Regions from separate parts of the Homo sapiens genome. Here region 1 is linked to region 2. The links come from fine-mapping of genetic effects on gene expression. A gene starts in region 2. The other region holds a variant in brackets. All regions are shown on one strand. Distances are from middle to middle. Region 1 overlaps LL0XNC01-250H12.3 (a long non-coding RNA gene). Region 2 holds the start of BEX3 (brain expressed X-linked 3).

Region 1 (16,057 bases), 82 kb after region 2:
GCAACCACTGCTCTTCTGTCATTGTAGATTGATTTACATTTCCTATAATTTTATGTAAATGGCATCATACAATATGTATTTTTTTGGTCTGGCTTCTTACATTCAGCCTATTAACTTTTTGATTTATCTTTATTGTTGCATGATTGAATAATTCCTTTTTAAAATTGCTAAGTAGTATATGGATATACCACAATTTGTTTTATCCATTCACTTTTTCATGGACAGTAGGTAGTTTTCAGTTTGGGGTTCTTCTAAATAAAGCTGCCATAACCATTTGTGTAAATGTCTTTATATGTACACATGCTTTCTTTCTCTAGGGTAAATACTAGGAGTCCAATGGCTGGATCATGTGGTAGATGTGAGATTAACATTGTAAGAAACTGCCAAACTGTTTTCCAAAGTGGTAGTACCATTCCTTATTCATTCCCATCAGCAGTATATGAGAATTCCATTCTCCACAACCTTGCCAAAGCTTGGTATGGTCAGTCTTTTTTACTTTAGCCATTCTCATGGGTGCATAGTAATATCTCATTAGAGTTTTAATTTACTTTTTTTTTTCAAGACATTGTCTTGCTCTGTCACCCAGGCTGGAGTGCAGTGGCATAATCTCAGCTCACTGCAACCTCTGCCTCCTGGGTTCAAGCAATTCTCCTGCCTCAGCCTCCTGAATAGTTGGGATTACAGGCACCCACCACTGCACCTGGCTCATTTTTGTATTTTTAGTAGAGGCAAGGTTTCACCATGTTGGCCAGGCTGGTCTCAAACTCCTGACCTCGTGATCTGCCCACCTCGGCCTCCCAAAGTGCTGGGATTACAGGCATGAGCCACTGCACCTGGCCTACATTTTCTTAATGACTATTATTGTTAAACATCTTTTCATGTGATTACTTGCCATTTGTATATATTCTTTGGTAAAGTTTCTGTTTCTATTATTTTCCCATTTATTTATTGGAGTGTCTGTTTACTTTTTACTTTTAAATGATTTTATATATTCTGGATATAAATTCTTTGTCAGTTATACGATTCTTCAAATACTTTTTCCCAGTCATTGACTTATCTTTTCATTCTCTCAACAGTGGCTTTTAGAAGAGCAGAAATTTTTAACCTTGAGGAAGTGCCATTTATAATTTTTTTATTTAGGGTTAAGATGTTTTTATTGATGTCCTATCTAAAAAATGTTTACCTACTCACAGTCACAAGGATTTACTCCTGTCTTTTCTTGTAGGAGTTTATACATTTGGATTTTATAGTTAGGTCTCATATTCAGTTTGAGTTGATTTTGTATATGTTGTGATATATGGATTACAGTTTATTTTTGTGTATGTATATGGATATCTACTTATTACAGAACCATTCGTTGAAAAGACTATTTACTTTTCCACTGAATAGTCTTTACATCATTGTCAAAAATCAGTTGTCCGTGTGTGCATAGGTTTACTTCTGGATTCCTTATTCTGTCCTTTTGATCTACTTTTCCCCTTCAATGGCAATAGCACACTGTCTTGATTACTGTAGGTTTATAATGAGTTTTGAAATTAGGTAGTGTTTGTCCTATACCTTTGTTCCATTTTACAGTTGTTTTTCACAGTTTAGGTGTTCTGTATTTGTATATGATTTTAATATCCACTTGCCAATTTCTTTGAAAAATGTATAGAACATTTATTGGGATTGCACTGAATCTGTATATTAGTTTGTGGGGAATAAACGTCTTAACAATACTGACTCTTCTGACTCATGAACACAGTATGTCCTTTACTTCTTTGGGTCTTCCTTCTCTCAGCAATGTTTTGTAGTATTCAATGTACAAATGTTCCATATCTACGAACAGATAATTCATAAATATTTCATACTTATTGATGCTGCTGTCAATGGTATTATTTCTTAAATAGAATTCTTAATCATTACATTTTCATGGAACCACCAGCAACCAGATTATTAATAATGACTATTGAAGAATCTTGGTAAAAAGCACAGGCTACTCTAGGATGGAAAAGGTATTTGATGCTTAATGTGCATGTACATGTATTTCTATATCAGCTTTTAGAAATCATTGGCAATACACTGAAACTAGGGATAAAAATGTACCCCTGACAGTTCTACAGGTAATCTCCAGAAAAATCAATGACTAAAATAATATAGGTTAGTAGCTTTCAACTTTATGTTTCTGCTATATTTGAATATGTTAAAATGTGAGGTTGTACTTTTTTGTCCCCAGTAAACCCACCTTAAAAAATTCCTGGGATCTTGGATGGTGAGAGAGCACTGGGGAGAGGCAATGCATCTATATGAGTATTTGTGAATGTATCAATTTGTGTGTTGCTGAAGCTGCCAGGAATGTGTATTATGAGATGTTGAGACAAATTACTATGTATTACGTCAGTGTTATTCATTTCCTAGCACATGTTGGTAACAAGATATAGGGGGTTGTTTGTTTTTTCCCAGTGTTCCTTGGCTAGCCTGGTTACCATGGTGACTCCATGACTCTTATGGGATTTAGTGTAGAGTGAGTGTCCATTTATGATTTTTGCCTGAGTCACTTATTTCGATGATAGTTGTGAAGTGTTGTTTTTAAAATTCTGATATTCCTTTCAAAACTATGAGTTGGCATTTAGAAAAGGGCAGAGTTTTCTCTTCTTATTTATCTGTGTATGTATGTATGTATATCAGTGTGACTCAGAGATTCTCATTTTTCTGAAAGGATTACCCTGTGCTATTATTATTATTATAAATTTCGATGCTCAAATTGTCCCAGAATTGGCCAGTGGAAGGACCTTGAAGTTGGCTTCAGTGTCCAATTAACACCTCCCTAAAATTCCTTGAGCATGTACTTTGCTCTCTGAACCTGACTATATCCCCATCTGTAGAAAGGAAGTAATGATGTCTACCTTAGAGCATGGCTTTGAGCATTTGAAGAGAAAAAGTCTGAAGATAACAACCCATATCGTGTTGCATCTAGTAGGCCTTCAACAAATGTAAGTTCCCCACTCCAACTTTGCCTCCTTCATTCTGTCAGTGCGATGCCTCTGACATTAAAATTCACATCATGAATACCAAAGAGAATACTTGGAAATGTGACAGGAAGCAGGCGTAAGTCTACATTTCTTTTTTTTTTTTTTTTTTTTATACTTTAAGTTTTAGGGTACATGTGCACAATGTGCAGGTTTGTTACATATGTATACATGTGCCATGTTGGTGTGCTGCACCCATTAACTCGTCATTTAGCATTAGGTATATCTCCTAAAGCTATCCCTCCCACCTCCCCCCACCCCACAACAGTCTCCGGTGTGTGATGTTCCCCTTCCTGTGTCCATGTGTTATCATTGTTCAATTCCCACCTATGAGTGAGAACATGTGGTGTTTGGTTTTTTGTCCTTGTGATAGTTTGCTGAGAATGATGGTTTCCAGCTTCATCCATGTCCCTACAAAGGACATGAACTCATCATTTTTTATGGCTGCATAGTATTCCATGGTGTATATGTGCCACATTTTCTTAATCCAGTCTATCATTGTTGGACATTTGGCTTGGTTCCAAGTCTTCGCTATTGTGAATAGTGCCGCAATAAACATACGTGTGCATGTGTCTTTATAGCAGCATGATTTATAATCCTTTGGGTATATACCCAGTAATGGGATGGCTGGGTCAAATGGTATTTCTAGTTCTAGATCCCTGAGGAATCGCCACACCGTCTTCCACAATGGTTGAACTAGTTTACAGTCCCACCAACAGTGTAAAAGTGTTCCTATTTCTCCACATCCTCTCCAGCACCTGTTGTTTCCTGACTTTTTAATGATCGCCATTCTAACTGGTATGAGATGGTATCTCATTGCGGTTTTGATTTGCATTTCTCTGATGGCCAGTGATGATGAGCATTTTTTCATGTGTTTTTTGGCTGCATAAATGTCTTCTTTTGAGAAGTGTCTATTCATATCCTTCGTCTACTTTTTGATGGGGTTGTTTGTTTTTTTCGTGTAAATTCATTTGAGTTCATTGTAGATTCTGGATATTAGCCCTTTGTCAGATGAATAGCTTGCAAAAATTTTCTCCCATTCTGTAGGTTGCCTGTTCACTGTGATGGTGGTTTCTTTTGCTGTGCAGAAGCTCTTTAGTTTAATTAGATCCCATTTGTCAATTTTGGCTTTTGTTGCCATTGCTTTTGGTGTTTTAGACATGAAGTCCTTGCCCATGCCTATGTCCTGAATGGTATTGCTTAGGTTTTCTTCTAGGGTTTTTATGGTTTTAGGTCTAACATGTAAGTCTTTAATCCATCTTGAATTAATTTTTGTATAAGGTGTAAGGAAGGGATCCAGTTTCAGCTTTCTACATATGGCTAGCCAGTTTTCCCAGCACCATTTATTAAACAGGGAATCCTTTCCCCGTTGCTTGTTTTTGTCGGGTTTGTCAAAGATCAGATAGTTGTAGATATGTGACATTATTTCTGAGGGCTCTGTTCTGTTCCATTGGTCTATATCTCTGTTTTGGTACCAGTACCATGCTGTTTTGGTTACTGTAGCCTTGTAGTATAGTTTGAAGTCAGGTAGCGTGATGCCTCCAGCTTTGTTCTTTTGGCTTAGGATTGACTTGGCAATGCAGGCTCTTTTTTGGTTCCATATGAACTTTAAAGTAGTTTTTTCCAATTCTGTGAAGAAAGTCATTGGTAGCTTGATAGGGATGGCACTGAATGTATAAATTACCTTGGGCAGTATGGCCATTTTCATGATATTGATTCTTCCTACTCATGAGCATGGAATGTTCTTCTATTTGTTTATATCCTCTTTTATTTCATTGAGCAGTGGTTTGTCGTACTCCTTGAAGAGGTCCTTCACATCCTTTGTAAGTTGGATTCCTAGGTATTTTATTCTCTTTGAAGCAATTGTGAATGGGAGTTCACTCATGATTTGGCTCTCTGTTTGTCTGTTATTGGTGTATAAGAATGCTTCTGATTTTTGCACATTGATTTTGTATCCTGAGACTTTGCTGAAGTTGCTTATCAGCTTAAGGAGATTTTGGGCTGAGACAATGGGGTTTTCTAGATATACAATCATGTCATCTGCAAACAGGGACAATTTGACTTCCTCTTTTCCTAATCGAATACCCTTTATTTCTTTCTCCTGCCTGATTGCCCTGGCCAGAACTTCCAACACTATGTTGAATAGGAGTGGTGAGAGAAGGCATCCCTGTCTTGTGCCAGTTTTCAAAGGGAATGCTTCCAGTTTTTGGCCATTCAGTATGATATTGGCTGTGGGTTTGTCATAAATAGCTCTTATTATCTTGAGATACATCCCATCAATACCTAATTTATTGAGAGTTTTTAGCATGAAGCATTGTTGAATTTTGTCAAAGGCCTTTTCTGCATCTGTTGAGATAATCATGTGGTTTTTGTCTTTGGTTCTGTTTATATGGTGGATTACATTTTTTGATTTCCGTATGTTGAACCAGCCTTGCATCCCAGGGATGAAGCCCACTTGATCATGGTGGATAAGCATTTTGATGTGCTGCTGGATTCGGTTTGCCAGTATTTTATTGAGGATTTTTGCATCAATGTTCATCAGGGATACTGGTCTAAAATTCTCTTTTTTTGTTGTGTCTCTGCCCGGCTTTGGTATCAGGATGACGCTGGCCTCATAAAATGAGTTAGGGAGGATTCTCTCTTTTTCTATTGATTGGAATAGTTTCGGAAGGAATGGTACCAGCTCCTCCTTTTACCTCTGGTAGAATTCGGCTGTGAATCCATCTGGTCCTGGACATTTTTTAGTTGGTAAGCTATTAATTATTGCCTCAATTTCAGAGCCTGTTATTGGTCTATTCAGAGATTCAACTTCTTCCTGGTTTAGTCTTGGGAGAGTGTATGTGTCGAAGAATTTATCCATTTCTTCCAGATTTTCTAGTTTATTTGCATAGAGGTGTTTATAGTATTCTCTGATGGTAGTTTGTATTTCTGTGGGATCAGTGGTGATATCCCCTTTATCATTTTTTATTGCATCTATTTGATTCTTCTCTCTTTTCTTGTTTATTAGTCTTGCTAGCGGTCTATCAATTTTGTTGATCTTTTCAAAAAACCAGCTCCTGCATTCATTGATTTTTTGAAGGGTTTTTTGTGTCTCTATCCCCTTCAGTTCTGCTCTGATTTTAGTTATTTCTTGCCTTCTGCTAGCTTTTGAATGTATTTGCTCTTGCTTCTCTAGTTCTTTTAATTGTGATGTTAGGGTGTCAATTTTAGATCTTTTCTGCTTTCTCTTGTGGGCATTTAGTGCTATAAATTTCCCTCTACACACTGCTTTGAATGTGTCCCAGAGATTCTGGTATGTTGTGTCTTTGTTCTCGTTGGTTTCAAAGAACATCTTTATTTCTGCCTTCATTTCGTTATGTACCCAGTAGTCATTCAGGAGCAGGTTGTTCAGTTTCCATGTAGTTGAGTGGTTTTGAGTGAGTTTCTTAATCCTGAGTTCTAGTTTGATCACACTGTTGTCTGAGAGACAGTCTGTTATAATTTCTGTTCTTTTCCATTTGCTGAGGAGTGCTTTACTTCCAACTATGTGGTCAATTTTGGAATAGGTGTGGTGTGGTGCTGAGAAGAATGTATATTCTGTTGATTTGGGGTGGAGAGTTCTGTAGATGTCTATTAGGTCCGCCTGGTGCAGAGCTGAGTTCAATTCCTGGATATCCTTGTTAACTTTCTGTCTCGTTGATCTGTCTAATGTTGACAGTGAGGTGTTAAAGTCTCCCATTATTATTGTGTGGGAGTCTAAGTCTCTTTGTAGGTCACTAAGGACTTGCTTTATGAATCTGGGTGCTCCTGTATTGGGTGCATATATATTTAGGATAGTTAGTTCTTCTCGTTGAATTGATCCCTTTACCATTATGTAATGGCCTTCTTTGTCTCTTTTGATCTTTGTTGGTTTAAAGTATGTTTTATCAGAGACTAGGATTGCAACCCCTGCTTTTTTTTGTTTTCGTTTGCTTGGTACATCTTCCTCCATCCGTTTATTTTGAGCCTATGTGTGTCTCTGCACGTGAGATGGGTTTCCTGAGTACAGCACACTGTGGGTCTTGACTCTTTATCCAATTTGCCAGTCTGTGCCTTTTAATTGGAGCATTTAGCCCATTTACATTTAAGGTTAGTATTGTTATGTGTGAATTTGATCCTGTCATTATGATGTTAGGTGGTTATTTTGCTCATTAGTTGATGCAGTTTCTTCCTAGCCTCAGTGGTCTTTACAATTTGGTATGTTTTTGCAGTGGCTGGTACCAGTTGTTCCTTTCCATGTTTAGTGCTTCCTTCAGGAGCTCTTTTAGGGCAGGCCTGGTGGTGACAAAATCTCTCAGCATTTGCTTGTCTGTAAAGTATTTTATTTCTCCTTCACTTATGAAGCTTAGTTTGGCTGGATATGAAATTCTGGCTTGAAAATTCTTTTCTTTGAGAATGTTGAATATTGGGCCCCACTCTCTTCTGGCTTGTAGAGTTTCTCCCGAGAGAGCAGCTGTTAGTCCGATGGGCTTTCCTTTGTGGGTAACCCGACCTTTCTCTCTGGTTGCCCTTAACATTTTTTCCTTCATTTCAACTTTGATGAATCTGACAATTATGTGTCTTGGAATTGCTCTTCTCGAGGAGTATCTTTGTGGTGTTCTCTGTATTTCCTGAATTTGAATGTTGGCCTGCCTTGCTAGATTGGGGAAGTTCTCCTGGATAATATCCTGCAGAGTGTTTTCCAACTTGGTTCCATTCTCCCCGTCACTTTCAGGTACATCAATTAGATGTAGATTTGGTATTTTCACATAGTCCCATATTTCTTGGAGGCTTTGTTCGTTTCTTTTTATTCTTTTTTCTCTAAACTTCTCTTCATGCTTCATTTCATTCATTTCGTCTTCCATCGCTGATACCCTTTCTTCCAGTTGATCGCATCCGTTACTGAGGCTTGTGCATTTGTCACGTAGTTCTCGTGCCTGGTTTTCAGCTCCATCAGGTCCTTTAAGGACTTCTCTGCATTGGTTATTCTAGTTAGCCATTCATCTAATCTTTTTTCAAGGTTTTTAACTTCTTTGCCATGGGTTCAAACTTCCTCCTTTAGCTTGGAGTAGTTTGATCTTCTGAAGACTTCCTCTCTCAACTCGTCAAAGTCATTCTCCATCCAGCTTTGTTCTGTTGCTGGTGAGGAGCTGTGTTCCTTTGGAGGAGGAGAGGCACTCTGATTTTTAGAGTTTCCGGTTTTTCTGCTCTGTATTTTCCCCATTTTTGTGGTTTTATCTACCTTTGGTCTTTGATGATGGTGATGTACAGATGGGTTTTTGGTGTGGATGTCCTTTCTGTTTGTTAGTTTTCCTTCTAACAGTCAGGACCCTCAGCTGCAGGTGTGTTGGAGTTTACTGGAGGTCCACTCCAGACCCTGTTTGCCTGGGTATCAGCAGCGGAGGCTGCAGAACAGTGGATATTGGTGAACAGCAAATGTTGCTGTCTGATCGTTCCTCTGGAAGTTTTGTCTCAGAGGAGTACCCGGCCGTGTGAGGTGTCAGTCTGCCCCTACTGGGGGCTGCCTCCCAGTTAGGCTACTCGGGAGTCAGGGACCCACTTGAGGAGGCAGTCTGTCCATTCTCAGATCTCAAGCTGCGTGCTGGGAGAACCACTACTCTCTTCAAAGCTGTCAGACAGGGACATTTAAGTCTGCAGAGGTTATTGCTGTCTTTTGTTTGTCTGCCCTGCCCCCAGAGGTGGAGCCTACAGAAGCAGGCAGGCCTGCTTGAGCTGTGGTGGGCTCCACCCAGTTCGAGCTTCCTGGCTGCTTTGTTTACCTACTCAAGCCTGAGCAATGGCGGGCGCCCCTCCCCCAGCCTCACTGCCACCTTGCAGTTTGATCTCAGACTGCTGTGCTAGCAATGAGGGAGGCTCCGTGGGCATAGGACCCTTCGAGCTA[G/T]GTGCGGGATATAATCTCCTGGTGTGCCGTTTGTTAAGCCCATTGGAAGAGCGCAGTATTAGGGTGGGAGTGACCCAATTTTCCAGGTGCCTTCTGTCACCCCTTTCTTTGACTAGGAAAGGGAATTCCCTGACCCCTTGAGCTTCCTGGGTGAGGCAATGCTTTGCTCTGCTTCAGCTCACGCACGGTGCACTGCACCCACTGTCTGGCACTCCCTAGTGAGATGAACCTGGTACCTCAGTTGGAAATGCAGAAATCACCCATCTGCTGCGTCGCTCACGCTGGGAGCTGTAGACTGGAACTGTTCCTATTCGGCCATCTTGGCTAAGACTTAAGTCTACATTTCTATTATCATTTCTTATTATGTGCAATCTTTTTTTTTTTTTTGAGATGGAGTCTTGCTTTGGTGCCCAGGCTGGAGTGCAATGATGCAATCTCGGCTCACTGCAACCTCTGCCTCCTGGGTTCAAGTGATTCTCCTGCCTCAGCCTTCCAAGTAGCTGGGACTATTATAGGCACATGCCACCATGCCTGGCTAATTTTTTTGTATTTTTAGTAGAGACAGGGTTTCACCATGTTAGCCAGGACGGTCTCAGTCTCCTGACCTTGTGATCTGCCCACCTTGGCCTCCCAAAGGGCTGGGATTACAGGCGTGAGCCACTGTGCCCAGCCTGTCATGTGCAATCTTGAGTATCACTGCTGTGTGGTGGTGGGGACAGTGAGATGAAGCTGAGGGAGAGGAAAAACCTCATTGCTTAGCTTCCAGTTAACTGAATGGGGTATAGGCAAAACATCATCACACGTACAACCTCCTTACCTGTCCTCTTTCTTTCCTCACTATTCCATGTGCTTTCTTATCTCCCTTCTAGTGTAACATCAGAGAAGGGGTGTACTCTGTGCCCTAGAACTAGGAGCTAACAGAGAAAAACCAAATGTGATGTGGAGTCTGCTAGACAGGCTACTGGAGCAAGAGTGAAGCGATGAAAGTCTCATCATTGGGACATATTAGGTGAGTCACTTCCCTTACACCAGCCTCATCTATTCAACAGGATAATAATTCCCAATCTTCCTGACCACTCAAGAATACTCTGGAGATTAACAATGAACTCATATGGGAAAGCAAACTGTGATCTTAGGTGGGAGGGAAGGACCAGTCACTTTTGAGTAATTACCTTAACAGAGACAATCCAGATGTCCTAGAGTTCTCCATGGTGGGCATTAAATTAATGGCACAGTAATGTGAGGTGTTTTCATCAGAATTTTGCCAAGTATGGTTCGTGGACTACTTCATCAAAATCATCATGGATTGCCTGTTAAAATAGTAGATATTTGGGTCTACCATAAGTCAGCTGAATGAAAAACAGGGAGATGTGGTGGCAGGTATCTATATTTTGAGAAATTTTTCCAATTGGTTGTGGTACTCATCCATGTTTGAAAAGCACTGCTGTGGATTTGCAACAAGGTCTATGAAAAATTTGAATCCTTTCATGTCTAATTTCATCATTGGTTGCTCCTACTACTTTGCTTTTAATATCTGTGTCATTTCTGTTTTGTGAAATAGGTACCAGTTCCTTTAATTCAGTAATTTTCATTCAGTGATTTATGTGTGGAGCATTGATCTAAGCACCGGGGAAACAGCACAGAGAACAAGACAAACATGGTCCCCGGACATATCATTTCTAGTTTGAGAAAACTGGTAATAAGTAGGTAAACAGATCAATGAGCAGGGTAATTTCATATGGGGATTTGTGTTTTAACACATATAGAGTATTAAATGACCAAGATAAAGATAATTACAGATGGGGTTGTAAGTGAAGCTCCTTTTCAGGAAGTGACATTTGAGCTGAGTCCTGGATAACAAAAAGAAGCTAGGCACAGACTGACTTTTTGCCAGTGTGTATACAATGTGCATGGGCACCGTGTGTTCCAAGAGCAGGGAAAAGCTCAAGTGCCTAGAGCCTGGCAGACAATGCACAGACTGGTGAGATGAGGTTGAAGGGGCAGATAGGAGCAATATTGTTTAAGCCATTGTAAGGAGTTTGGATTGTATTGTGAGTGTGGAGGGTTAGAGAATGGGAACAATATCATCTGACTCATGTTTTCAGAAAGTGACTCTGGTCACTGTGCAAAGAATGGACTAGAGAGGGAGAAGATAGTGTGTGAGAATAACCATTAGAAAATATTGCGGAAGTCTAGGGAGGAGCAAGCTGATGGTATCAATGCTGCAGCCATGTGTAGAGGGAGAAATGGACCTTGACAGTATGTGTTTGGAGGTAGGGAGGGTAAGACCTGTAGTAGCTGTGTGTGTGAAGTATGTGGGGATAAGGCAGAATAAAGTATGACCCCTCAGCTTTTTGTACAGCCATGTGGAAAAACGATAGTGCTATTTTGTGAGATCAGTCATTCCAAGTGCTTTTGAGATGTTCTTAAGTTAATTAAAATTTAGGTCATCCAAGGTTGGTTGTAGTGAAAATTAGAGATTTTAAGAATGCAGGTTGTGTATTTCAAAATAGTTAAGAGAATAATTTAGATGTTTCTAGCATAAAGAAAACAAATAGTTAAGGTGATGGATATCTCAGTTATACTGATATGATCTTTACAAATATATGAGTGTGTTAAATTTTCACATGTACCCCCCAAAATATGTAACCCTATATTATATATCAATTGAAAAAATAAATAAAGGTAATAGTAATGTTCAAAAAAAGAGATATCCTTGCTGATTCCCACTTTATAGATGAGAAACTGAGTGGCAGAGAGAATAAGGACTTTGCCTGAGACTACACAGTTAGGGAGTGGGACAGCTTGGATTTGTGTCCAGGATGTCATGCTTCAGAGCCTGAAAACTGTCACAGATTTCTTAGGTGAAAGAAACAGTCTGCACAAGCGTGCATGTTTTAGGAATGCATTTAAAGTAATACTTAGTATGTTAATAGATGTATACAAACACTGGCCCTAGTAACAAAAAGGTGAATGGTGACCTTGGTAAGATCACATTCATTACAATCCTGGCAATGGAAGTCATAGTGCAGTGGGATAGGGGGTTAGTGGCGAATAAAGAATGTTAACAAGGAATGCAGAAAACTATTTTTAGAGCTTTAACTTTGAAGGGAAAAGAGGAGAGAGAGAGAGAGAGGAAGAAGAAGAGGAAGAGGAAGAAGGAGGAGGGAGAGGGAGGGGTATCTTAAGTGGAAAAGATAGGTTGTCAAAGAAGATGAGGACTGTGATTGCACTTTTGGAGAGGACTATGATGTGTGTTGGGGGTCGAACATGTTCGTGTGCACGTCACCTACAGGGATGCGTCTGGAGAGCGTGCATTATCCTAAGGGACAACAGACCCCTTGGGGCCAGGGGGTAGGAGTAGGGTCAGTGAGAGATGCAGGATGATTTAAATGTATTGAAGTGCTTTTGCATAGTGTTTGAAATTTTGTATTCGGGGGGAAAAAGTATTTTAATAAAAATTGAAAACAAAATACTTATCATCAGATTGACAAAAGTAATGTGCACATATATTCCATATATATATATATATTTTTTTTGCTTTGGAAAAGCATTCATTGTAGCCAATTTTATGGGGAAACAAAGCAGATTTTAAAAAATGAATGGAGTGTGTGTGTGTGTGTGTGTGTGTGTGTGTGTGTGTGTGTGTGTGTTTCTAGCTAGTCTAGCTCCACCACCTCAAGTACAGCTCACAGTTGCAGTATTATCTTCAGTTCAGACCAGGACTGGCTTCTGATCTCAGATTTAGATATCCCACAAAAAGTGCTTCTGTTAATATTCCAGAAAAAATGATGGATACAGAAGGATAGCTGGATGTAAGTGAAAAGTTCCAGAAAACCATGTCTGATCCCATTAATCAAGCTCCCAACTTTCATCCCTCCCTGCCCGCTGCTGAGTCCCCTGGTCTACACTCAGAGTTGCAATCCTGACTCTGGCCACCAAGAGGCATTACAGCTATCTCCACGTTCCTTGCTCTTTCTTAATGAAAAGGGGTAAATTTCGCAGAGTAAGTAATGTTATGAAACTTTTCTTTACTGTGATACCAATAGTTCGGAATACCCATTTGTATATTAAAGCAGGCCAATTTGCTGTTGATTCCAAATCTACAGCGCATTCAGTAATTTATTTTTTCCTTCATTAGCGTAGGTTGAGGTGTCCACGCTGTAGGGGGGGGTCCCTCCTGGAGAGCAGGGTGTTCACCACCCATCACTCCAACCCTGTACAGGCTTCTCAGACTCTCTCCCACTCCCTCCCACTGACCCCCCTCTCCAAGACATTGTGGACACATCTGCCCAGACCCCACTCCAGCGCCTCATCCTTTCAGTCACTTCCTGCTGCCCTGGGCTCCCCCAATCCTGCCTCCCAGCAACAGCCAAGGCACATCAGACCTACCTGGTGTTTCATCCTATGGATGTCCCACAGTATGTTTTTACACTCTTTTTTACACCTGTCAGGGTTGTTTTTTTTTTCCAGACAGAATCATTCTGCAGTTCCTTTCATAGACTGGGTTTTAGGGGAGGATACCGTATTTTTCTGCTCCTTGCTTACACTTTGTAGAGAAGTTTGATAATAGTGGTACAGTGATGCCCCCTCATGACAGAAGCCTGAACTGCAGCAGCTTGAACATCGCTGAGCAGGAAGGTGGGAGGGAGGTGCTGTGGCCCATGCACACCCTACAGAGTTTTCTGGAAGTGTGAGTAGAAAAATGGGCATTCCCACTGTACAGGGATACTGACGGCCACCAGACAGAAAGTGTAGCCTCTTTATGTGCTATGTGAAAGCACAAAATGATCATTTCTGTGTTTATGCTTTCAAACCTCTGGATAAATAGCTATAGACCTATATAAGCAAAAATGCATCTTGGCCACTAAGTGATCTTTGTGACCCACATTTGCCCTCATTGTGATCATCTTTGCATACACATGCGTTTCCATAATAATGTTTTAAATTTCCTTCCAAAAATAATTGTAGTCTCTTTTTTTTATCAACCAGGTGGTTCATCATGTGGGTGCCCCAAAAATTCATTTAATTAGTATCCCAGTCATAAAAATGTAGTTGCTTTAACATTTTTTCCTGTTACAAACAATAGTATACTTAATATCCTCCTCATATATATGCAAATATATTTGTAAGCATTTCTGTCAAAAAAAAAAAAGTTCCTGGAAGTGGTCTTTCAAAACCCTGGGAACTGTAAAATTTTATATTAACATAGTGAAATCCAAATACTATTTCTAACTTATATTCCTTACATAACAGTATGTAAGGACCTTGTGTCTTCACACATTAGAAATAATGTGAATCATTGCTAATCTTACAGGCAACAAATCACCTCTCATCGTTATCTTCATTAAAACTTGTTTTGCTGAATTCTAGAATTCCATCCTATGGATATGACATCAGTTTTCTCAAACCTGTGTTAGTCAGAGTGTTCTGATATTCCCTGTTATCTACACTGTGTGGAAGACATCTTTTCAGAGTCTGTGCATGGCTGAAGGGCACAGTTCCTGTAGCTGTTTACACTGGTGAGCCAAATGGGTCCTCTTAGAGCCTTACTAACTGTCTTGGAGGTTATTACAGTACTAATAACAGAACCTGGTTGCTGTACATGTGTGTGTATTTGTCACTGCTTGTGTGTGTGCACAGCATTTCCCTCTGCTTCCTTCTGCCCCTTCATAATTTGGTGTACCGGTTGGTCTTTCTTCCTAAATTCAGGCCCAGAAATAAAGGAAGGGAATTTTCAGAATGACAGTACTTATAACCAGATGCTTATCAGCATCCTTCACAATGTCCTGAAGATAAACTTCTAAAAGGTAAATTGTTGGTGCAAAGGGTGTGCACCTATGTAGCCCTTTGATAAGTATTGCAATACTGACACCCAGAGAGGTAATGCCATTTAGATTCCTCAGGTGGAGTCACAGGAGAAAATCCCAAGAGGAGTAAAAAATAATAATGCTGATGTCATGTTAGAGTGGAGGCCCTGGATGCTGTTGTGGACCCACTCTCCAGTTTCTTCCACAGTTAGAAGATGTGGAAGTGATCAGGTGCAACTCGAATTTTTCATACAAGCAAAGCCCGAGTCAGCGTGAGGGGTGGTGGTGGTGGGGCAGGGAGAGACTGCCATTGCTTGGAGTTACTTAGGACACAGTCAGCAGGGCTGGGATACAGCTACGGTTTTATATATATTCATGGGTATAGAAAACATGGGCATCAAGGCCTTCATATGAAAAAGTTTGGTCATTACTGAGGTACAACAGAAGGCTTTCTTGCAATATAATTACAGACAATGAAATTCGCAGTTTTAAGGATACAACTTGATGATTTTCAGTAAACAAAAGTTGTGCAACCATCACCGTAGTTGAGTTTTGGAGGTTTCCATCACTATAAAATGTCCCATCATACTTGAACGCAGTTAATCCCTGCTTTCACCCCCAGCTCCAGGAATCACAGGTATGCTTTGTGTTTCTGTGGATTTACCTATTCTGGACATCTCATAGAAGTGGAATCATGCAATATTCATCTTTTGTGTCTGGCTTCTTTCACTTCACATAATGTTTTTAAGGTTTATCTATTTTGTAGCATGTATCAGTACTTTATTCCTTTTTATTGATATACCACATTTTTTTATCCACTCATCAATTGGTGAACACTTGAGTTGTTTCCAGTTTTCGGCCATTATGAATTATGATGCTACATATATTTTTTGTGCAAGTTTTTATGTAGACATAGGTTTCCGTTTCTCTTGAGTATGTACCTGGGAGTAAAGTTGCTGGGTTATATGGCAGTTCTCTGCTTGACAATATGAGGAACTCTCAGAATATTTTATTGACCTTGACAGTCTTGAGGAGTACAGCCTTAATCTGTTGTCTTTTTCTCATGATTAGACCAGCATTATGGAATTTCAGAAAGAATACCACAGAGTTGAAGTGCCCTTCTTATCACATAATATTTGGGTTTACATGATGACATGACCTCACTGGTGATGTTAACCTTCATCACATAGTTAAAGTCGTGTTTGCCAAGTTTTCCAATGTACAGTAACTTTTTCAATTCACGTACTATGTTCCTGAGAAGTGAGTCACTAAGTGTGACCTTCATTCAGGATTAAGCTTCACCTCTTGGAGGGTTAGTAGCTACAAATACTATTTGCAAT
Region 2 (16,057 bases):
CAGAAGACTAAGATTGACAGGTGGCAATCATAGATAAAATATTCAAATATTTCCTTAGATGTTTATGCACAATATGTATAATCCTAGAAGGTAAATAAATAAATAAAATAGGCCAAGTTCTATGGACTGAATGTTTGTGTCCCCCCAAACTTCATATGTTGAAGCTTAATACCCAGTGTGATGGTATTTGGAGGTGGAGTCTGTGGAATTAGATCATGAGAGTGGAGCCCTCATGAATGGGATTAGTGCTCCTATAAGAAGAGACATGAGAGAGTTTGCTTCCCCTCTTTCTGCTTTCCACTATGTGATGTTACAGAGAAAATCACCATCTGCAAACCAGAAAGTGGGTCCTCATCAGACATCGGATCTACTGACATCTTGATCTTGCACCAGAACTGTGAGAAGTAAATGTTTGTTGTTTAAACCACTCAGCTGCTATTTTGTTATAGCAGCCCAAACTGACTAAGACACTAAGAAAACAAGTGAAAAAGAAAAAGATTTCTTTCCTGGGAGTTAGTAGATCTAACAAAGCTATCTCTACATCTAGTTCTACTACTACCCTCTTGGAAACCTGAGCAAGCCCCTTAATTTTTCTGGGTCTCAGTTTCTCAATTTGAATAATAGGACCCTTGTACTAAAATATTTCTAAGGTTGTTTTGGTTTTCATAGTACACAATCTGTGAAGGCCTAGTACTTGAGATCATAAAACCTACCCTATAAATCCAAAATTAGGCAAAGGCATAGAAAACACAGCTATAAAATCCACTGTTCTATAAGCCTACTAATCCATTTTTCTGGCCTCACAGTTTATTTTATTATCCTATTTCAATGGGCTTGAAGAACATACAATGACCTGGGACATAGTCTGTTGGGTATCCAAAGCAGACAATGGCTTGTGACAAAAGTCTGTCTAGGCATGTTGACAGACTTCAGTCTTTCTTCCTGAGATATGAGTGTAGTTAATGAAAGCTCAGGGAAGGGACTAGAGATAATTGTTTTCTTCTTTAATGAGTCTGGACTTTAGATAAATAAGGGAACTTCAGAAAACAACTTCATCCTGTGCTTTGTGAGAGACAGGATTGAGAGTGAAGAAGTGTGTGGGAAAGGTCAGACGGACCTTGAGGTTCCTCTTCAGTTCAGCATGTCAAAGCACCATATCTTGGGGTATCAGTTTCTAAGCCCCAACATTATCCAATATAATGGAAGGTCTTTGACAACAGGGCCCTTGTCTACGCTGTTTCCTCCTGCATCCTTAGTACCTAAAACAGCAATTTGCACATGATAAATGCTCAACTATTATTTGTTAAAATAATAAATTTTTTTATTGGCCATGTTTGTTTCTTTTGTAAACTACTTATTCATATCCATTGCTCATTTTCCCATTGGTATGTTCATTTTTTTCTTATTAATTTGTAAGAGCTCTTTAAATATAATGGATGTTAACTTTCTTTTTCTTTCACATATTGTTGGTTTCCTAGGATGGCTGTAACAAAGTATCACAAACTGGGTGGCTTAAAACAACAAAAATGTGTCCTTTCATGGCTCTGGAAGCTAGAATTTCAAAATCAAGGAGTCAGCAGAGCCATGTTTCCTCAGAGACTCTGGGTAGATTCTTTTCTTGCCTCTTCCTAGCTTTTAGTCATGGTTGTCAACCCTTGGCATTCTTTGGCTTGAAGCTGCATCACTGTAATCTCTGCCTCTGTCCTTGGATTGGTTTTCCTCTTCTTATAAGGACACCAGTCATATTGTATTAGGGCCCAGCTTAATGACATCACCTTAATTTGAATATATTTTCAAAGGCTCTGTTTCCAAACAAGGTCACAATCAGAGGTTATAAGGCTTAGGACTTCAATATATATCTTGGGGGGATACAATTCAACCCATAGCACATATGGTATAAATATATTTCTCCTGTTTCTTCTCTGTCTTTTAAATTTGTGTGAAAAATCAGGTTCCCTGGCCAGGCGCGGTGGCTCACGCCTGTAATCCCAGCACTCTGGGAGGCCAAGGCGGGTGGATCACAAGATCAGGAGATCGAGACCATCCTGGCTAACACGGTGAAACCCCGTCTCTACTAAAAAATATAAAAAATTAGCCGGGCATGGTGGCAGGCGCCTGTAGTCCTAGCTACTCGGGAGGCTGAGGCAGGAGAATGGTGTGAACCCAGGAGGCGGAGGTGGCAGTGAGCTGAGATTGTGCCACTGCACTCCAGCCTGGGCGACAGAGCGAGACTCCGTCTCAAAAAAAAAAAAAAAATCAGGTTCCCCTTGTTGCACTGTATACTAGCAATGGAACTTACATGGGAGTAGTAACAGTGAAATAAGATAAAGTGACTTCATGAACGTTTATGCATGAGTTTTGTTACTCCTCAAAGTTCATCCCTAAGTCCTGGGAAAAGTAAGAAAGGTGCTCACCTCAGCCTAAAGCTAGAAGGGCCAAAGGAGTTCTCTTGGCCTACACATAGTCCAGCTAATGTCATCAGTTTAGGAGACTGCATAGGGCAGAGCTCCTTTTCCACCAGAGTCCTAAACAACAGGAAAGAGTGGCCACGGGTCTCCGGTGTCTCAAGATATTATCTGCAATCCATGAAATAAAGAAAAGAATACCCCTCAGTTCCCCAATAGATAATGAGGTGCTGAATATTTGCTGCTTTCACGTTCAGACATCTTAGTCTCATAGCCCTTTTATTTTTTCAGACTAGATCTCTTGAATTAAATATATTATCTCCCAAATCATTGAAACTCTTACAGTGACACCCTTAAAATTTCATCAGATTCATTCCACATTTTGGAAATCTTGGCATCAAAGTTATAATGGCCATAGCTTAGAGGAAAGCTGGAGTAGGCATAATTTCCTATATTCTTAACACCTAGTTTCAGTCTGTAATCGGTGCTTAAATTTAGAGAGAAAGAGAGAATCACAATAAAAAAGTATCAGTAAAGCATCAGAGAGGTACATAGAGAACCTATTCTAGGCAGGAACAGAGATACTCATACCCACAGGGCCCACTAGGGCTCAGACTACCTTCTCCCAAGCCTAGCATTTACACAGGAGAGATAATGAGAGGAAAACAGGACAATAACCACAGTCCAACCAGGTGCATTTCAGACAAGTACATGTGAGCCATGTCATGGCAATACACATAAAGATTTCAGCAAAAACGAGCTTCCACTGATGGGATACTAATACAATAGAGGGATCTTCACTAGTTGAGGTCAAATCATGAAACAGTTTTATTTTTCCAATAGCTGTATCAGCAGTGTTCTTTCTATCACTCCCTCCCCCACTTCGCATGGGGCAATGGGCTTCTTTAACTACATTTCTGTCCAGTTCTCCAACTTTTCAGTCACTACTGCTTATTAAAATAGTTTCAGTCAGACTAAAGATTTGGTTCTATTCATTTTCAAATGCCAATCTCACTTTTCATTCTGAGTCCTCCTGGTGCCTCCAGGGCAGATTAGAATTGAGGCTCCTGGGCTTGAAACATGTGTAAAACGTGTGTGTGGGGATAAGAACCATCTAATCAGTTCACCTTCTCTCTGCCTTTTGGGACACATGAATCCCAAATGCAGAATATAGTGTCCTTCTAACTTGGCCTTGAAAAAATTTGTTTTTGTTCTCAACAGTGTGCTGTCTATTTCCAACTCCTCAGAAAACTTCAGGGTCAAGAAAACATCTCAATCAACTCCTATTCACAACATTTTAGTAAAGATAACAGCATTTCCCGGATAATTTTCACCTATCTTTAAAACATTACTTTATTACAACTAATCAATATAGCATAATATCCAATCTGGATGTTACAAACAAATGTCTGTTTTCATCCAAGGAAATTTGATGGTTTTGAACACAGGATTTATCCAAGATGGGTGAAAAGGAAAACAGCAAAGCATTTAGCCACCAAAAGAAATAAAAATCCACTTGCTAAACTTCATATCCAATAGTCACATCACAGTGGCTTCTCAGCTTTCAGGAGATTTTTTTCTAGGTAATTCTTAATTTTCATAAAAGCTTTTCCGTATTGCTCTAAATACAGTCCCCAGAATGAAAAACAACCTATTCGCCTCAGTACTGGATACATTCATTCAACAAGTATTCAGTAATCACCTACTTGGTGCAAGGAACACTATTAGTCACTGGGTACACAAAATAGAACACAGCAAGCATGTTTTGGGCCCTCATGGATTTTAAGAACAAGTGGGTCTAGCTAAGGAAAGAATCATACTCTGCTACTCTTTAAATCATGTTAGAAACCATCGAATAACAATAAAAATAATGTCAACAAAAATTGATGATTTACTAGGCTATGTAGTAAATTATTGTTATGTGTAATTCTAACAATCCTTGTTTCACAGAGGAAGCACACAGACCTTGATAAGTAATTGATCCAAAGTTGAACATCAAGTAAACAGCTGACTGAATTTGAAGCCAGACTTGTCTGATACTACTGTTCATGCTTTGAAACTGCATCATTCCAGCTGATATCATTAATATAGCAATCTGTATAAAAAGTTCTTAACTGTGAGACAGAATCCAGGAATCACTAACATTTCTTTAAAAGACAAATATTGAGTGTGATTTTATAATTTGATGTTTTGGAGCTATGTACTAATATATCCATATACCTCTAGAAGAATATATATGTAATTTTATATGGAATACATATCTCCAAAACGTCTAACTACATACACACTGGGCATATACTCTTCCTTTATTCACTGTGTCATCTGGTTTAGCAGGGTAGGAAATTCTACAGGAGTTTGGGGCCAAAACTAGAGTTAGTAAGCATTTGTCTGGCTTGTCTTGCCTCAGTGCTGCATTTAATGCTTTTGGTTCCTTATCATAAACAACAGATATCAAATATTTTTTATAACAATGCCACTTTTCTAAAGACATCTCTATTTTCTAGCTGTGATAATTTTTTTAAAAATGATTTCAAGTTGGAGAAAGGAACATTTGCACTCAGGATAAGGTTCAGTCTCAAGTTAAGTTGTTTCACACACCCCCTGCTTATTTCTAATATATTTTGAAACATTCGCACCAAAGGGTAGATGGTTTTGAAACTACTTTCTGCATAATATGTACTTAACTTCTGAGCTCATACTAAGAAGATATTTGTAGGGATGGTTTGAAAGGTTTGGAAAGGAAAGCAGGGAATAAAAGACTCCCTTTCTCTGATGACTGTGATATCAAAAACATCAAAGTTACATAAAATGGTGAAGATCTGACGACCAGACTGCTCCCTGAAGATTCACTTTACAGATCATTTCGAAAACACCAACTGTGTTCAGAAAGAGTCCCGCCTTTCAGGCGCCTGTAGTCCCAGCTACTCCGGAGGCTGAAGCAGGAGAATGGCATGAACCCTGGAGGCGGAGCTTGCAGTGAGCCGAGATCGCGCCACTGACTCCAGCCTGGGCGACAGAGCGAGACTCCGTCTCGGGGGAAAAAAAAAAAAGAAAAAGAAAGAGTCCCGCCTTTTTATATATTTTTTTCTTTTCTTTTTTTTTTTTTTGGAGACGGAGTCTCGCTCTGCCGCCTAGACTGAAGTGCAGTGGTGCGACGCGGCTCACTGCAACCTCTGCCTCCCGGGTTCAACGATTCTCCTGCCTCAGCCTCCCGAGTAGCTGGGACTACAGGCACGTGCCACCACGCCTGGCTAATTTTTTTGTATTTTTAGTAGAGACGGAGTTTCACCGTATTAGCCAGGATGGTCTCGATCTCCTGACCTCGTGATCCGCCCGCCTCGGCCTCCCAAAGTGCTGGGATTACAGGCGTGAGCCACCATGCCCGGCCAAAAATAAAATTTTAAACGAGCTAGTATGTATCAAAAGTAATGGCTTGATGTTGTGTGGAGCCCAGAAAAAATATTTTGTGTGGTACAGGTCAACATAAACAATGAGAGATTTCATTGTGCAGGATAAAGCATTTCCTTTTTTTTTTTTTTTTTTTTTTTTTTTTTTGACAGGGTCTTGCTCTGTCGCCCAGGCTGGAGTGCAGTGGTGCGATCCCGGCTCACTGCAACCTCCGCCTCCCAGGTTCAAGCGATTCTCCTGCCTCAGCCCCCCGAGTAGCTGGGATTACAGGCGCACGCCACCACGCCCAGCTAATTTTTGTATTTTTAGTAGAGATGGGGTCTCACCATGTTGGCCAGGCTGGTCTCACACTACTGGCCTCAAGTGATCCACCCGCCTCGGCCTCCCAAAGTGCTGGGATTACAGGTACGCCACCGCGCCCAACCAGCATTTCTTTCAAAATTAAAAACTTATAATTTATAATTTTCTGAAGCATGCAGATTTTTTAAGGAAATAAAAAGAAATATATACAGTCCACTCCACTTCCTTGCCCCGCTTTCTGACAAATGCCCTCCTGCCTCCCCACCTTAGCCCTCACTCTAAATTTTCTAGAAGGGTAGGAATTCAGGGGCTACGTGGGCATTGATGGCTGTGCACACGCAAGGGGTAGAAGTGGGAGTGCAGCGCAAAGCATGTTGCCAGGTAGAAAAGGAGAGAAAGCAGAAAAGGCCAAAGCCAAGGCCTGAAGTGAGAGGGGGCAGTGGTGGAGGATGATGCAGACCCTCCCTGGTAACCAGAGGAGGGCAAACTCCAACCGCAGAGCAGTGATGCCACTTGTGGGCCCTCAGATTGGAGAGGACCGAGAAGAGTGACAGGGCTGTGCGCTCTGGGGCACCTCATGCAGACGGGAGTAGGGAGGCTGTTTTTTGCGCGTGCATATGGCGGTGGCGGGTGGGGGGAAGGGGGAGATCCTGCTGCACTGGCCGCCCAAGTTGGGGGGCGAGCTCGGTGGTGACGCGCGGCCCTCACGTGACCCAGAGCTGCAGAGCGACGCAGCCTTCGGTGCAGTCGTCACTCGCGTCTGGCTACCAGCTCCCCGCTGCCCTGAGCTCGGCGGGCTGGCATTCGGCCCGGGGAAAAGCGGAGCAGGTAAGGGCTCCGGGGCCCGTGAGCCCCGGCCATGCCAGCAGCGGCTGACCGACCTCGGCGACAGGCGCAGAACAGCGCAGGGGGTCCCCGCCAGCTTTCTCCACACCCCAACATGCTTGGGAACACAGAGGCCCCCAGGGATGGGGAAGCAGGGGCGGCTGGGTTTCCAGGGGCGGCAGAGCCACCAAGAGCGATGGAAACCCACCCCCGAGTCCCTGCAGGAAAACAGCGAACACCGCGGGGGGCTGGGCGTTCGAGGGTGGGGTGGGGGTGGGGGGCGGGAGACGCGGGGCGCTGGCAGCGAGGGGAGCCCGGGCTCGGAGCACGGAAAGGGCCGGGCGGCGGCGGGTCTTCGCTAGCGTTCCGCTGCAGCAGCCCCCACCCCCCACAACCCCCACCCCGGCTCGACTGCAGGTCTGCGAGGCTAAGTGTCTCCGCGGCGCACCTCGCGGCGAGAATCCGGAGGAGAAGGAGACTGCAAGGATAGGCCCAGGTCGGTGCGAGGGACGGTGGTGGGGCGGGGGTCGGAACGTAAGGAAAGCCCAGTCTGAGACCCCAACCCCCTCCACCCCATCCCCCACTCCTATACCGGTCCTCCATTTTGGTGCCTGCAAAGCTCTGGGAAAGAATCCCGGGAAACGAAAAATGGTGGGTTTGGGGGAAGGGAGGTAAGGGGAGAAAGCTGGAGGGAGGGGCTTTAATTGGAGGCCCCGTAGAGGACGCGCGGAACTTCTAAGGTGGGAAAAAACGAAATTAAAAAATCCTTTGATATCAGGGCTCTGAATCCTGCTGGTCAGAGCACCAAGCATTCAGTCTCTCTCCTTGCCTTTGTCTTACTTGTGTTCAAAGAAAAACAACCAGAAAAAAAAAATCTCATCATGGCAAATATTCACCAGGAAAACGAAGAGATGGAGCAGCCTATGCAGAATGGAGAGGAAGACCGCCCTTTGGGAGGAGGTGAAGGCCACCAGCCTGCAGGAAATCGACGGGGACAGGCTCGCCGACTTGCCCCTAATTTTCGATGGGCCATACCCAATAGGCAGATCAATGATGGGATGGGTGGAGATGGAGATGATATGGAAATATTCATGGAGGAGATGAGAGAAATCAGAAGAAAACTTAGGGAGCTGCAGTTGAGGAATTGTCTGCGTATCCTTATGGGGGAGCTCTCTAATCACCATGACCATCATGATGAATTTTGCCTTATGCCTTGACTCCTGCCATTTATCATGAGATTAATACTGTGATTCCCGCTGTTTTCTTTTTCCTTGCATTTTCCTAATATGCCTTTACTGATCCGTTTGCTGTGAACCCTATGTTATTTCCATGTGTCAAGTGGGTCTTGTGTTGCCAGCTTCTATTTGAAGATTGCCTTTGCACTCAGTGTAAGTTTCTGTCAGCAGTAGTTTCACCCATTTGCATGGAAAAATTTAAAGCTAATAAAGCAATTTAAAAAGCAATCTATACATTTATTGTCTCATTAAAAATGTATACTTACATATAACAGATGAACTAAAAAAAAATCTGAGATTAAATACACTAGAGTGTTAATTGGTGAACATTTCTGTGTGTTAACTAATCCCAGCACTTTGGGAGGCTAAGGTAGGCAGATCACGAGGTCAGGAGATCGAGACCATCCTGGCTAACACGGTGAAACCCTGTCTCTACTGAAAAAAAAATACAAAAAATTAGCCGGTCGTGATGGCACACGCCTGTAATCCCAGCTACTCGGGAGGCTGAGGCAGGAGAATGGCTTGAACCCGGAAGGCGGAGGTTGCAGTGAGCCGAGATCACGCCACTGCACTCCAGCCTGGACGACAGAGCCAGACAGTCTCAAAAAAAAAAAAGTAATATGTGACATTTTTTTCCTTTTATTATCTGGAGTTTGAGAAGCAATGAAAATTATTTTTCAATGAGATTATGAATGTAGTGCAGATACGTAACAATACTGGCTCAACAAATTTGAAGAGTAAACTCTAACTATCCTTCAGTCTTAACTGGAATAATAAACCTTCCCTTTATTACAGATGCATTCCTTTAAAGAGCCCGTTTTCTGCTCTGTGAAATGGGGAACAATGCTTGTCTTACAGGGCTGCTGAGTGGAACTGATGAAATGTGGAACTGTGTTGGGCTGGCTTCTGTCCCCAACTCCCCAACATTTAACAGGACCGGGACCCCCATCAGGTACTTAGGACTGGAGGAATTATCACTCATGTTTACAAGTCCAGACAGTGAAAATAGGTGGGTTCCCCCATATCATTCTTGTTATTTGCAATCCTCCTGCTCCCCTGATTACTGCCTTCTTGATTGGCCACACTTTCCCTTCTGCTGGATCCTATTTCTGTTGCTGTTGATGAGGTGCTAGGGTCTTCAAGGTAACAAGCCCCACTGATTTCTCTGGAGTCTCTGGTGAGCCAAATCCCCCTTTGACCTCTATAGAATTGTGGAGAATGTCTTTATAACTTGAGAGTTATATTTATCCTGGTGAGTACAACTCTTGTGGTTCTTGGGATTACATTGGTTCTTAGAAAAATAGCCCTTTCTGGTTTTCTTTCATAACTCCTTCAAATAACTCAGACAAGAGTGCACTGCGGCCTAACTGAGAAAATGCATCTGAGTGTGCCCTGAATTGCATTACTGCAAACCTCCACAATACAAACAGGCTGAAGGCTTTATTTGTGCCTGTGTTTCTATCCTTGATACGGATTTTCTCAAAGGAGACTCTTGGCAGGCCTGCCCACCCAGTTTAACAGACTTACCTAGACATGTAAATTACATTGGGAGAACAAATTTTCTTTAAAGCGGAAACACACTCCCTTCTTGTCCATACCTGAACCATGAAACTACTCTGTAAGTTCTTAAAAACTATATTAAGTATTTGGCATTGTTATTTCTTTGTGAGTGTGTGCCCTTTTCTCCAGACAGTTTCTGGTATAGTGCCCGACATAGTAGATATTAAATTATTAATTATTTTGATTGATTAATTAACTAAGAGTTAGAAATCCAGCTCAAAACTGTCCCTAACTCACTATCCTTAACTAAGGGGCCAAAGGCAAGTAACTAGTTATGTGGAAAGCATTATATTATTTCCAAAGGAACATAGCAAGGAAAGTTTCTAACTCAAATTCTGTAAACTTTTTTTTAAACCTTGTATATGTTAGTGTTTAGGGAAACATAGACGCCTTACGTGCATCATAATTACCTAGGGAAAGTGTTAAAAATGTTGACAGTTGGGTGCTCGTCCCACCCCCAACCAGCCACTGTGACCACCTGAATCACCAGAATCAGGAATTACTATTTTGACAGTTTCCCAAGTGATTCTCATGCATCTGAGTTTTGACAACATAGGCATAGAGAAACACTGACAGTAATTACACCATTTTACAAATTTCGTGATCCAAATTACCTTACTTACTTGATTCCACAATGCATATACGTTTCCAAAGTACAGCATTCCAAAATTAGACATTAGGCCATCAATGTATGTTTATACTTAAACCAGTACTGTTTTATCTTCTTTTCAAATATCCTATTAAACTAATGCTTTATCATGAATTTATTATTAATAATAAATGTAATAATTATGAAATTATTAAATAAATTATGCATTATCATTTCTGTGCCAACCTGTGCCCTTTCACAACAATGATTTTGTTTTAGTCTCCCTGGAGCTCAGTTTCTAGCACAGTGCCTAATATAGTAGATGTTTCATAACATAATAATTCATTTACTAATTAATTATTAAATTATTTCAGGATTGTAGTTTATCTAAAACAATATATAACAACATTTTTGAGCCTGTGGAGTTTTTTTTAATGCTTTCGTATTTTGAAATTTCTATAAAGAACATTTTAAAATGTTAGTACTTCTTATAATTATTTATATAATGTCATCATACATATTTGGATCATGAATATAGGGAGAATATAAACAAAACCGTAATCCAGTCATCCAAAGATACCATTTGTAAGTTTTTAAATCTTCATCTTATATTTTATCATGACAAAGCTAGGCTTAGAGCCTCTTATGAGGAACACTGCCTCTTTCAAAGCCCCTGCCAAAGAAATATGTTTAGCTTGCCATGTTTGTTACTATTTTTCTAATCTCTCCTCTCCACTTATCAAAGCTGATTGACTCATTTGATCAGCTTTCAGTTAGCTCCTGATTTTCAAAACTCAAGCCATCACATTTCAGAAGTCCACTCACAGTGATCTAATGTCCAATTTTGAAATGTATTTTTTTCTATCTTGAAAAACTACAACAATGTTTGTCTTATAAAGTTCTCATCATGTCTGCATTAAAAAAAATCAATTCCTTTTCCTTTAAATCCTTAGTGATTACTTTCTTTTTTTATTTTATTTTATTTATTTTATTTTATTATTATTATACTTTAAGTTTTAGGGTACATGTGCACAATGTGCAGGTTAGTTACATATGTATACATGTGCCATGCTGGTGCGCTGCACCCACTAACTCGTCATCTAGCATTAGGTATATCTCCCAATGCTATCCCTCCCCTCTCCCCCCACCCCACAACAGTCCCCAGAGTGTGATGTTCCCCTTCCTGTGTCCATGTGTTCTCATTGTTCAGTTCCCACCTATGAGTGAGAATATGCGGTGTTTGGTTTTTTGTTCTTGCGATAGTTTACTGAGAATGATGATTTCCAATTTCATCCATGTCCCTACAAAGGACATGAACTTATCATTTTTGATGGCTGCATGGTATTCCATGGTGTATATGTGCCACATTTTCTTAATCCAGTCTATCATTGTTGGACATTTGGGTTGGTTCCAAGTCTTTGCTATTGTGAATAGTGCCGCAATAAACATACGTGTGCATGTGTCTTTATAGCTGCATGATTTATAGTCCTTTGGGTATATACCCAGTAATGGGATGGCTGGGTCAAATGGTATTTCTAGTTCTAGATCCCTGAGTGAACAGGCAACCTACAAAATGGGAGAAAATTTTCACAACCTACTCATCTGACAAAGGGCTAATATCCAGAATCTACAATGAACTCAAACAAATTTACAAGAAAAAAACAAACAACCCCATCAAAAAGTGGGCGAAGGACATGAACAGGCACTTCTCAAAAGAAGACATTTATGCAGCCAAACAACACATGAAAAAATGCTCACCATCACTGGCCATCAGAGAAATGCAAATCAAAACCACAATGAGATACCATCTCACACCAGTTAGAATGGCGATCATTAAAAAGTCAGGAAACAACAGGTGCTGGAGAGGATGTGGAGAAATAGGAACACTTTTACACTGTTGGTGGGACTGAAACTAGTTCAATTTTGAAATGTATTTTGGCAAATTTAGAAATATAAAGTAAATATATTTATTTACTAGAACAGAACTATTTATTTACGAAACTTAAAAATTGTCTTAGAAGTAGAAAAAGTTTTGAGTTTTATAAATGAAATGGACAAAATTCCACGTCTACTCTGTCTCCTTTCCTGACATCACATGTATTATGTAGTAAATATACTGATTTTGTTTGGAAAAGTCCAGTTTTTAAATTTCAGAAAGATAGCATGTTATGTAGTCAATATTTCATGTGTAACCAGCTGGAATGCTTTCTAAGTGATATAACTATACATAACCCAATAAATAAGGCATCCCTATAAACTTGAAAATCTAATTTTTAAAAAATTTTTGCCAGACATTTGAAAAGTCACAATTAGCATGTTTAGAAATTTACTCTGTTGGAAAATATTTCCAATTTAATAAAAATAAACTTTGCTGAGTTTCATATGAAGAGAGAAATCTTCAGATGTATGCCCATTTAAAAAAATCATTTTTGGCCAGGTGTGGTGGCTCACGCCTGTAATCCCAGCACTTTGGGAGGCTGAGGCAGGCGGATCACGAGGTCAGGAGATCGAGACCATCCTGGCTAACACGGTGAAACCCCGTCTCTACTAAAAATACAAAAAATTAGCCGGGTGTGGTGGCGGGCGCCTGTAGTCCCAGCTATTCGGGAGGCTCAGGCAGGAGAATGGCATGAACCTGGGAGGCGGAGCTTGCAGTGAGCCGAGATGGTGCCACTGCACTCCAGCCTGGGCAACAGAGCAAGACTCCGTCTCAAAAAAAAAAAAATTTGTTTTCACACAAATGAACTTTGTGTTTCTGATTGTAAAGTAATGCATTCTAAAGTGGTTTTTGTTGTTGCTTTGAGCAGAAGACAAACTGTATTAAGAAAGTTTTAAAATATTTTCTTCAACATCTTGTTTCTTTTCCTAAGATCACATGAGTATCAATTAATTTTAAGTTGTTGTCTATTTTTTCCCTAAATTAATACATATTACTTAGTTTGTAATTAAAATTTGATTTTTAAAAGAGGAAGCAAACTAATGTGTCAGTCATTAAAAGGGTGGAAAATTTGTTGAAAAAGAATAATGAATTTCAAACTAGTTCTGGATCCTTTCGCTGATTATGTAAACTTAGTAGTTATTGCCATGGTAATGCATTAGTGTTTACCATACATTGGTAAAATGGAGATGATAATTTCCAGGGCTGCTGTGGGACCCAAAGGAGATAAAGAGCATGTGAGTGAATGGTGTTGGATGACTTCATGTTTTCACCTGCACATTCAGAATCCAAGTACCTCAGATCCCCTTCAGCTGCTGGGAGTAGTAGCCAAACTATGTCACAGTCCCACTCCATCCCTCAGCTATGATGACCCACCCACTTCTCCCAGTTCTGCACTCTCCACTGGCCTTGATCACTACAGATTTCTCTAGACACCTCAATGTGCTAATGTCCCAGTTTATATCCTACAGAGGTGTGCATAAAGACCTACTTGAATTACAGTTGTACTAGCTTTGTTGGGTACTGTCTTAGTGATGCTTGGACCATGGTATGTTTTATATTTTTAGCAAAAGAGGCCTTTTGCTCAGCTTATATTTGTGGTTATAGGATATTAGGGGCCGAGTCTTGTTTTTTTTTATCCACTCTGACAATCTCTGTCATGTAATTAGAGGGCTAAGACAATTTCCACTTCAAGTGACTATCAATATGGTTGTCACACAACCACAATTAATGCTCTGTTAATTTTTCAGTCTTTTCTCTCTGTGTTTCATTTCAAATGGTTTCTTTTGCTATGTCTTCAGGTATACTATTCGTCTACAATGTGTAATCTGCCATTAACTTCATTTAGTATATTTTTTCATTTCAGACATTGTAGTTTTTATCTCTAGATGTTTAATTTGAGCCTTTTAAATATTTTTTATATTCCATGTCTCTACTTAACTTATTCACTCTTTCCTCTAGCTTCTTGACCATATGCAATGAAGTTCTAATTATCTGCTTTTATGTCCTTATCTAATTCTACCATTGTTGTCACTTCTGGGTCAGTTTTGATTGGTTGCTTTTTCTCTCATGATGGGTTTTATTTTCCTGTTTCTTTGTAGGCTCTTGATTGGATGTCAGACATTGTAAGTTTCACCTATTGAGTGCTGGATATTTTCGTATCCCTGGAATTATATTGATTTTTATTCTGGAAAACAGTTATTTGTAAAGTTTGGTATTTTAGATTCTTGCTTTAAAACTTTGTAAGAAAGGATCAGTGTTGTGTTTAGTTTAGAGTGAATCGTTCTCCACTAATGAGGAAAATTCTTTCTGAGTACTCTATCTGATGTCCTATGAATTATGAGGTTTCCAAGTCTGGCTAGTGGGAACATGCACTGTTCCCAAACATGTGTGAACTTAAGGAATTATTTCCTTTAATCCTTTTCGGTAGATCATTTCCTGATCTAGGGTAGTTTCCCTACAGACATGTGATGATCAGAATGATCAGTACTAGTTAAAATACTTGGCAGGCCATTAGACTGAGGTGACTCTAGCAAACTAGAGTTTCTATGGAAGCAAACTGAAACCCAACTCATAGTGAATGGTCATAGCCTAGGAAAATAAAATTTAAGCATCACCAATTAAAAACTGCCAACTAACCTCTAACTAGAGACTTTACCAATCAAAAGCTGCCTATTAACCACTAACTAGAAACCTTTCACTTTTACAAATCAAATCTTTTCTTTGCTTTGCTTTAGAAAACATTTTATAAAAGATTTCCCTCACATGCCCCCTTGGTGGAACACTGAACCACTTGCAGTTTGGCATTGTTCTGTTCATGAATAAACTCTGCTCAAATAAACTCTTCAAAATTTTAATGTGCCTGTTTATTATTTAAGAGTACTCAGGTAAATATTCAAGAGTGGCTCTCCATGGATCTCTGGAATTCCTTCTCTGTGCAGCTCTTTCCTTTCTGGGACACAGCCCTGTGAACTCCAGCTTCCTTGCCCTCCTTGGACTCCCAACTTCTTATTCTAAGCTCTGGGATACCACAGGGCTTTGCCTGGATTCCTACTTCTTGCACTGTGGCCTGAAAACTTTCTTCAGGAAGTAAGCTGGGGCAATTGTTGTACCCGAGCGAGTCAGAAAAATGCCACACTTTGAGACGAATTATGAGTCCTTTTTTAGCCGGCGACCAAGAGACGGCTAACGTTCAAAATTCTCTCGGCCCCGAGGAAGGGGCTTGATTAATTTTTATACCTTGGTTTAGGAAGGGGGGGTGTCCAGTTAGAACAATTTTACAGAAGTTAAGTAGTCAAAAAGTTAAAAGGATAAATGGTTACAGGAAAGTAAACAGTCCCAGGTGCAGGGGCTTTAAGACTATTACAAGGTGATAGACGCGGGGCTTTGGGTGTTATCAATCGGACGAATTCTTGGGGACTGCAGATATAGCTTGCCACAGTATTTTATCAGTTAATTGCATTCTTGGATGTGCTGGGAGTCAGCTTGCACAAGTTAAGTCCTTGAGGAAGGGGCTGCCAGTGAAAGAGCCAAGATGGAGTCTGTCTGGCTCTCTTAGCTAAGGGAGAGTCAATTCAGTTGGAAACAAGGCTAGGTGATTAAAGGAAAAGGGAAAGTCTAAAAACAGAGTTAGTAAAAACCAGGTTGGGCATTACACAATCATAAGAATAACCTCATTTGTTCCCAGTTTCTCAGGGATCACTAAACATTGTTGCCTGTTGTCTAAGGTCTTGAGAACAGCTTGTTCTTGTATTTCATCCAACTTTTTAGTTGTTTCATGTGGGAGAAAAATTTCATC

Evidence for each region.
Region 1: its variant is fine-mapped to the expression of BEX3 in whole blood (TOPMed, PIP 0.97).

Annotation. Positions count from the first base shown.
Region 1 is chrX:103,451,439-103,467,495 of GRCh38, forward strand. It overlaps LL0XNC01-250H12.3 (a long non-coding RNA gene), which reads left to right. Exons shown (of 6, transcript NR_188440.1): 4 at 9,777-9,916. Among named protein-coding and RNA genes, the nearest start is that of LL0XNC01-250H12.3, 55 kb to the left of the region's middle. RefSeq lists enhancers at 8,739-9,238, 13,196-13,345, 13,546-13,615. The variant G/T (reference allele first, on the strand shown) is at 8,908.
Region 2 is chrX:103,369,673-103,385,729 of GRCh38, forward strand. It overlaps BEX3 (brain expressed X-linked 3), which reads left to right and starts at 6,866. Exons shown (of 3, transcript NM_206917.3): 1 at 6,866-6,941; 2 at 7,356-7,434; 3 at 7,838-8,492. The coding sequence starts at 7,850. The coding sequence ends at 8,155.